Linked DNA regions of Homo sapiens. The protein of the gene in region 1 purifies or fractionates together with the protein of each later gene. This does not show direct contact. Each region holds a gene or a part of one and is shown in the gene's direction. Other genes may lie near its edges.

Evidence for each region. The genes of interacting proteins can lie anywhere in the genome.
Region 2: the proteins of EXOC8 (region 1) and EXOC6 purify together in Homo sapiens (affinity purification with mass spectrometry; 5 studies listed by BioGRID and IntAct, with this or other methods). This does not show direct contact.

What each region holds. Positions count from the first base shown.
Region 1 is NC_000001.11:231,336,071-231,339,820, reverse strand, and holds the start of EXOC8 (exocyst complex component 8), read left to right. Parts: upstream 1-1,968; 5' UTR 1,969-2,075; coding exon 2,076-3,750. Other genes in the region: DNA-dependent metalloprotease SPRTN, read right to left, coding at 1-52, 1,217-1,437. UniProt on the Homo sapiens protein: Component of the exocyst complex involved in the docking of exocytic vesicles with fusion sites on the plasma membrane.
Region 2 is NC_000010.11:92,851,396-92,855,145, forward strand, and holds part of EXOC6 (exocyst complex component 6), read left to right. Parts: intron 1-3,750. UniProt on the Homo sapiens protein: Component of the exocyst complex involved in the docking of exocytic vesicles with fusion sites on the plasma membrane.

The sequences.
Region 1 (3,750 bases):
ACGGATGGAACACATTCCACCCTTCCCTTCATAGCTGCATATCCCAGCACACCTAGAAAACAATCACCATAAAAATGTGTTACATTGGCCAAATATGCCCAAGTCCTTACACATTCTTGGGCAGTTCACACTAACTCAGTTGGCAGATGGCTTTCATGAAAGTATACCCCCCTTGGTTAGCAGATACTTGCATTTCACCTAATTAATTAGTTACAACCCCCGCGGGCGCCTCCCGCGATGGCTCCGATCCCCGCCGGGCAAGGAAGGAAAGCAGCGTGCTCTCACCACCCTGCTTGAGAAGGTGGAAGGCTGCAGGCACCTGCTAGAGACGCCAGGACCGTACCTGGTGTACAACGGGGACCTAGTGGAATACGATGCGGACCACATGGCCCAACTGCAGCTCCCCTTGCCCTAGCTAGGCTGCAACAGCTCAAAGGCAATCCTATTCTGCTACTCCCAGTCTCCTTCCGACAAGTTACAGTTCGGTGTTATTAACAAGCAGATATCTCCAGTAGCATATCTCCAAAATCATAACAGACGCCTGTATAAAGGAAATTGGTACTTTAAACACAATTTAATATCATATCTTAATTTGTTTGACAGTAGGTTGTTTTCTATCAACTCAAAAACAAGCATGCTGGGATACAACTGTATCTTAAACTTAACCCTGTTCACGTGCAGGAGTAGATTATTATTTCAAATAGGGATTTCTGAAATTTAGCGTGTAGAAAAAGAATCGTTTTAAAAGCATCACTGAAGATCCCCAATGCAACACACGAGCTAACTAAAGTGGGTTTCCTAACGGGAATAGAGGAGGAGAACACACATCCTTTGGCAGTTACTCTGCGTCCTCAGCACTTTCTTAGGTGCAGATTTGGTTGCTTCTCCCTTCTGGGTCCTACAGCACTATCATAAGGCAAATCAGGAACTTGTTATTTTCAAGTGAAGTGAGATTCAAATAAAAATCTCTTTTTTGTTACGGCCCTGAGTCCAACCGTGGCGGTGTGGTCTACACAGCTTTCTTATTGTTCGAGTGGGAGAAAAGGTAAGGAAGACAGAAACACGCCGAGGCAGGAATTGCCAGGTCCAAAACCAGACTCCCCTCATTTAACGCCCCCTGGGACCGTCGGACTAGAGAAAGGAGAGAAAACCAGGGCCGGGGGCTGCAGGAAAGCTGCCAGTCCCGCCTCTTTCCCCAGCGGGGCTCGGAACTCACAGGGTCATTCGCACGCTCCACTTCACCTCGACGGCCTCCAGCTGGCCCCAGAAGAATTGGTCGTTAAACTGAACAAACAGTGCCTGCAAGTCCGGTGTGGGGTCCACCAACTCCCACGACGCGTCCACTAGCGACAGGGACTCCTGGGCATGATCGCGCTCCGCCTCCTGCAAGTTCCACTCCTCCTGAAGCCGCAGTGCCAACATCAAGTCATCATCCATCGTTGCCAGGATCACAGGCGGGGTCCGCCGGCGTCAGGCTGGCTCCCCAGTTACGCCGCGACCCCAAGCCGCCTAGCCGAGGACCAGGACTAGCTCCTAGGAGATGCCGGCTCTCGAGACGGCCCGTCAATCCCGCGAGAGTTCGCGGAAACGCGCTTGAGAACGAGAACGGAGCTTACCCCAAACGCCGAAGCCAAGATTCTAGGGCTTTAAAAAAAGCAGTCAGCATGACACCTCCTAGTGGGCGCAGAACCTGGGCTCACAGGGCTCGGGCCCTACGAAGCTTTCAGGAAGCTAGTTTCAGCCTTTACTCTTTGCCGGTTATTTCAAACCTCAACGTCACGCTCGGTTCATGCGCAGTACCGAAATTTCTCTCGGCCTCTCCCTCCCCTCACTTCCGCAATAGCTCATCTTGCGCATGCGCTTTAACCGATGGCATTGCTGCGCAGGCGCAATGTCTGCGCTCGGCCCACTTGCGCAGGCGCAGTGTCTGACGCTCAGACCCGGCGCAGGCGTACTCGTCTCGTTCCCATTCCTGCTTCCTCAGCCCAGGAGCTCGGTTGGCCTTGGGTGGGTCTAGACAGCCGCGGCGGCTGCGGCGCCGATAGTGACAGTGAGTGCGTGAGACCCGGAGAGAAATGGCGATGGCGATGTCGGACAGTGGGGCGAGCCGCCTGCGTCGGCAGCTGGAGTCAGGGGGTTTTGAGGCGCGGCTGTACGTGAAGCAGCTCTCGCAGCAGTCGGATGGGGACCGGGACCTCCAGGAGCACCGGCAGCGCATCCAGGCGCTGGCGGAGGAGACGGCGCAGAACCTGAAGCGCAACGTCTACCAGAACTACCGGCAGTTCATAGAGACGGCCCGCGAGATCTCCTACCTGGAGAGCGAGATGTACCAGCTCAGCCATTTGCTGACCGAGCAGAAAAGCAGCCTGGAGAGCATCCCGCTTACGTTGCTGCCTGCCGCTGCTGCCGCCGGAGCCGCCGCCGCCTCTGGAGGGGAGGAGGGAGTCGGTGGGGCGGGGGGCCGAGACCACCTCCGAGGCCAGGCCGGCTTTTTCTCCACCCCCGGGGGTGCCTCCCGCGACGGCTCCGGTCCAGGCGAGGAAGGAAAGCAGCGCACTCTCACCACCCTGCTTGAGAAGGTGGAAGGCTGCAGGCATCTGCTGGAGACGCCGGGACAGTACTTGGTGTACAATGGGGACCTAGTGGAATACGATGCGGACCACATGGCCCAACTGCAGCGGGTGCACGGCTTTCTCATGAACGATTGCTTGTTGGTGGCTACCTGGCTGCCTCAGCGGCGTGGGATGTATCGCTACAACGCTCTCTATTCCCTAGATGGTTTGGCCGTAGTCAATGTCAAGGACAACCCGCCCATGAAGGACATGTTCAAGCTGCTTATGTTCCCCGAGAGCCGTATTTTCCAGGCCGAAAATGCTAAAATCAAACGAGAGTGGCTGGAAGTGCTGGAGGACACCAAGAGGGCCCTCAGTGAGAAAAGGCGAAGGGAGCAGGAGGAGGCAGCGGCCCCTCGAGGGCCACCCCAAGTGACTTCCAAGGCCACTAACCCATTTGAGGATGACGAAGAAGAAGAACCAGCTGTTCCTGAGGTAGAGGAAGAGAAGGTGGACCTCTCCATGGAATGGATCCAGGAGTTACCTGAAGACCTGGATGTCTGCATTGCGCAGAGAGACTTTGAAGGGGCGGTTGACCTGCTGGATAAATTGAACCATTACCTGGAAGATAAACCTAGCCCACCTCCTGTAAAAGAACTAAGGGCCAAAGTGGAGGAGCGAGTTCGACAGCTCACTGAGGTGCTAGTTTTCGAACTCTCCCCAGATCGTTCCCTGAGAGGTGGTCCGAAGGCTACTCGCAGAGCAGTTTCGCAACTGATCCGGCTGGGCCAGTGCACGAAGGCCTGTGAGCTATTTTTGAGAAACAGGGCAGCCGCTGTTCATACTGCAATTCGTCAGCTTCGCATCGAAGGTGCCACTTTACTCTATATTCATAAGCTGTGCCATGTCTTCTTTACCAGCCTTCTCGAGACTGCAAGAGAATTTGAGATCGATTTTGCAGGCACTGACAGCGGCTGCTACTCTGCCTTTGTGGTCTGGGCAAGATCAGCCATGGGCATGTTCGTGGATGCTTTTAGCAAGCAGGTGTTTGATAGTAAGGAGAGCCTCTCTACAGCAGCTGAGTGTGTAAAAGTGGCTAAGGAGCATTGCCAGCAACTGGGTGATATCGGACTGGATCTCACCTTCATCATCCATGCCCTTCTGGTGAAAGACATCCAAGGGGCCTTGCACAGTTACA
Region 2 (3,750 bases), on another chromosome or scaffold:
AGCACTTTGGGAGGCCGAGGCAGGCAGATCACTTGAGGTCAGGAGTTTGAGACCAGCCTGGCCAACATGGTGAAACCCCGTCCCTACTAAAAATACAAAAAAATATTAGCTGGGTGTGGTAGCACACGCTTGTAATCCCAGCTGCTCGAGAGGCTGAGGCAGGAGAATCGCTTGAATCCGGGAGGCGGAGGTTGCAGTGAGCCGAGATTATGCCACTACTCTCTAGCCTGAGCGACGGAGCGAGACTCCATCTTAAAAAAACAAAAACAAAAACAAACAAAAAAAAAACAAAACCAACCAACTAACCAAACAAACAAAAAAACGGGAGTGAGAGAGGTTACGTGACTATAGATTCTACAGACATTAAAAAAAGGTTAAGAAATATTATGAATAGGCTGAGTGCAGTGGCTCATGCCTGTAATCCCAGCACTTTGGGAGGCTGAAGCAGGAGGATTGCTTGAGCTCAGGCATACAAGACCAGCCTGGGTAACATAATGAGACCTTGTCTCTACAAATACAAAAATTAGCTAAGTGTGGTGGTGTGTGCCTGTGGTCCCAGCTACTCGGGAGGCTAACGTGGGAGAATGGCTCAGAGTCTGGGTCGTTAAGGCTGTAGAGAGCTGAGATTGTGCCACTGCACTCCAGCCTAGGCAACAGAGTGAGACCCCCATCTCAAAAAATGTATATATATTATGAACAACTTCATGCTCATACATTTGGCAACTTAGCAGAAATGGACAAATTAGTTGAAAGATACAAAGTATTATCAAAGTTCACTTAAGAAGAAATAGCTGAATAGCCCTGTATCAATTAAAGAAAGGGAATTTTGCTGTTATAAGCCTTCCCCAAAAGGAAACTCTAGGCCCAGATAGTTTTACTGGTGGATTCTACATCTTTAAGGAAGAATTAATGCCAATTCTACAAAGACTTTTCTGGAAAATTGAAGAGGAGGGAATATTTCCCAGCTCATTTTGAGGTCAACATTAACCTGATACCAGAACTAAAGAAAGAAAGACATAACTAGAAAAGGAAACTAAATCAGTATTCCTCATACACACAGATTTTACAAAAAATTTTAGAGAATTAAATCCATATATGTGGATTTAAAAGTATAAAATACATCTATATAAAAAGTATATTCTGTATATGTATATATGTGTGTGTATATATATGTGAAGAATACATCATGATCAAGTGAGGTTTATTTCAAGAAAGATGCTGGCTTAACATTTGAAAAATCAATGTAACATTGTTCACCATATTAAACAAAGAAAAGTTGTATGATCATATATGTGGAGAAAGCATTGACAAAATCGAATATTAATTCCTGATTTTAAAAACCCTCAGAAACTAGTAATGGAAATTCCTCAGCTTAAAACAGGGCATCTATGAAAATCTAGAGCTAAATTGTGCTTAGTGGTAAGAGTCTGAATGCTTTTCCTCTAAAATCAGGAATGAGGTAAGGATATTCATTCTCACCACTTCTATTCAACACTGTACTAGAATGTTGAATATAAGGCCGGTATAATAAGACCATTTAAAAAAAAAGCATCTAGTTTGGAAAACCGTCTTTATTTGCACACTGTGTGATCAACTATTATAGAAAATCCTGTGGAATGTACAGAAAAGCTACTAGAACTGATAAGTGAGTTTAGCAAGGTTGTAGGAATCAGGTGGATATGCAAAAGCCAATTGTGTTTCTCTGTACTAGCAACAATCAGAAATTGAAATTTAAAATTTGATGGTATCAAAAATATGAAATACTCAGGGATAAATCTGACTAAAGATGTGGAAGACTTGTATGTGAAAAATACAAAACATTGCTGATATAAATTAAATTAACATTGCTGATACTAAACTAAGTAAGTGGACACATACTGTTTTCATGGATTGGAAGACAGTATTGTTAAGATGTCAGTTTTCTCCAACTTAGTCTAGATATTCAAGATAATCTGAATAAATCCCAGCAGAATGAAAATTTATAGAAATTGACAAGCTGATTCTAAATTTCATGTAGAAATGTAAAGGACCTAGATTAGCCAAACTAACTTGGTAAAAGATGAACAGAATTGGAGGACCCATAGACCTGATTTTAAGATTTACTATAAAGCTACAGAAATTAAGACTGTGGTACTAGCATCAAGATAAACAAATAGATCAGTGAAACTTAATAGAAACCACATAAATAGATTAACACAGTCAATTGATTTTCAACAAAGATGAAAAGGCAATTCAGTAGAAAGAGATAGTCTTTTTTAGTAATGGTGGTGGAAAAATTGGATATCCTTACATAAAATAATGAACTTTGATCCATGCTTTGCACCATATTTAGAAATTAACTCAAAATGAACCCAAGACCTAAATGTAAAATGCAAAACTATAAGACTACTAGAAAACATAGGAGGAAATCTTTGTGACTTTAGGATAGGCCAAGATGTCTTAGATACTGTTTGCAAAAGCATAATACATAAGAGAAAAAAATTGATAAATTGGACTTTATTTATTGGACCAGAATTGAGAATATCTAGTCCTTGAAGAAGCTATTGAGGTTGCAGTGAGCCGTGATCATGCCTCTGCACTCCAGTCTGGGCAACAGAGTGAGTCCCTGTCTCAAAAAAAAAAAAAAAAAGGAAAGAAAGAAAAGGTGAGCCACAGATTGGGAGAAGATATTGGCAAATTGCATATCCAATAAATAAATTCTGTCTAGAATGTATAAAGGAAGTGTTTGAGACTGAATAATAATAAAACAACTAAAAAAATGAGGCTGGGTGTAGTGGCTCACACCTGTAATCCCAACACTTTGGGAGGCTGAGGCAGGTGGATCACAAGGTCAAGAGATTGAAACCATCCTGGCCAATGTGGTGAAACTCCGTCTCTACTAAAATACAAAAATTAGCTGGGCTTGGTAGCACACGCCTGTAGTCCCAGCTACTTGGGAGGCTGAGGCAGGGGAATCACTTGAACCTGGGAGGCGGAGGATGCATGAGCCGAGATTGTGCCAATGCACTCCAGCCTGGGCGACAGAATGAGACTCCATCTCAAAAAAAAAAAAAAGACTGACTATACCATGTATTGGTAAGGATGTAGAAGAACTGGCACTCTCATACACTGCTGTGGGAATTCCATAAATGCTGTTTATCAGGTTGAGGAGTTCTCTTAGTTTTCATTATGAAGGGGTGTTGAATTTTATCAGATGCTTTTTTCTGTATCTATTGAGGTGATCATGTGGTTTTGTCCCTTATTCTTTTGATATGGTATATTACATTATCAGATGTAAACCAACTTTGTATTCATGGGATAAATCCCATTTGATCATAGTGCATAAAGTATAATCCTTTTTATATGTTGTTGGATTCTGTTTGCTAGTATTTTGTTGAGGATTTTTGCATGTGTATTCATAAGATATTTTGATCTGTTTTTTGTGTGTGTGTGTGTGATGTCTTTGATATGAGAATGATACCTCATAGAATGAGTTGGTGCTCTCTCAATTGAGATGAGTATTTGGGTTTTTTCCCCCCTTTATTCTATTCATGTGGTACATTACATTGATTGATTTCCTCATGTTTAATTACCCTTGCATTCCTAGGATAAATCTCATTTGGCCATAGTGTATAATCCTCTTTAATATACTGTTGGATTTGGTTTGCTAGTATTTTATTGAGAATTTCTACATCTATATTCATGAGGGATTTCTGTAATTTTTTTAGAGACAAAATCTCACTGTGTTGCCCAGACTGATCTTGTACTTCT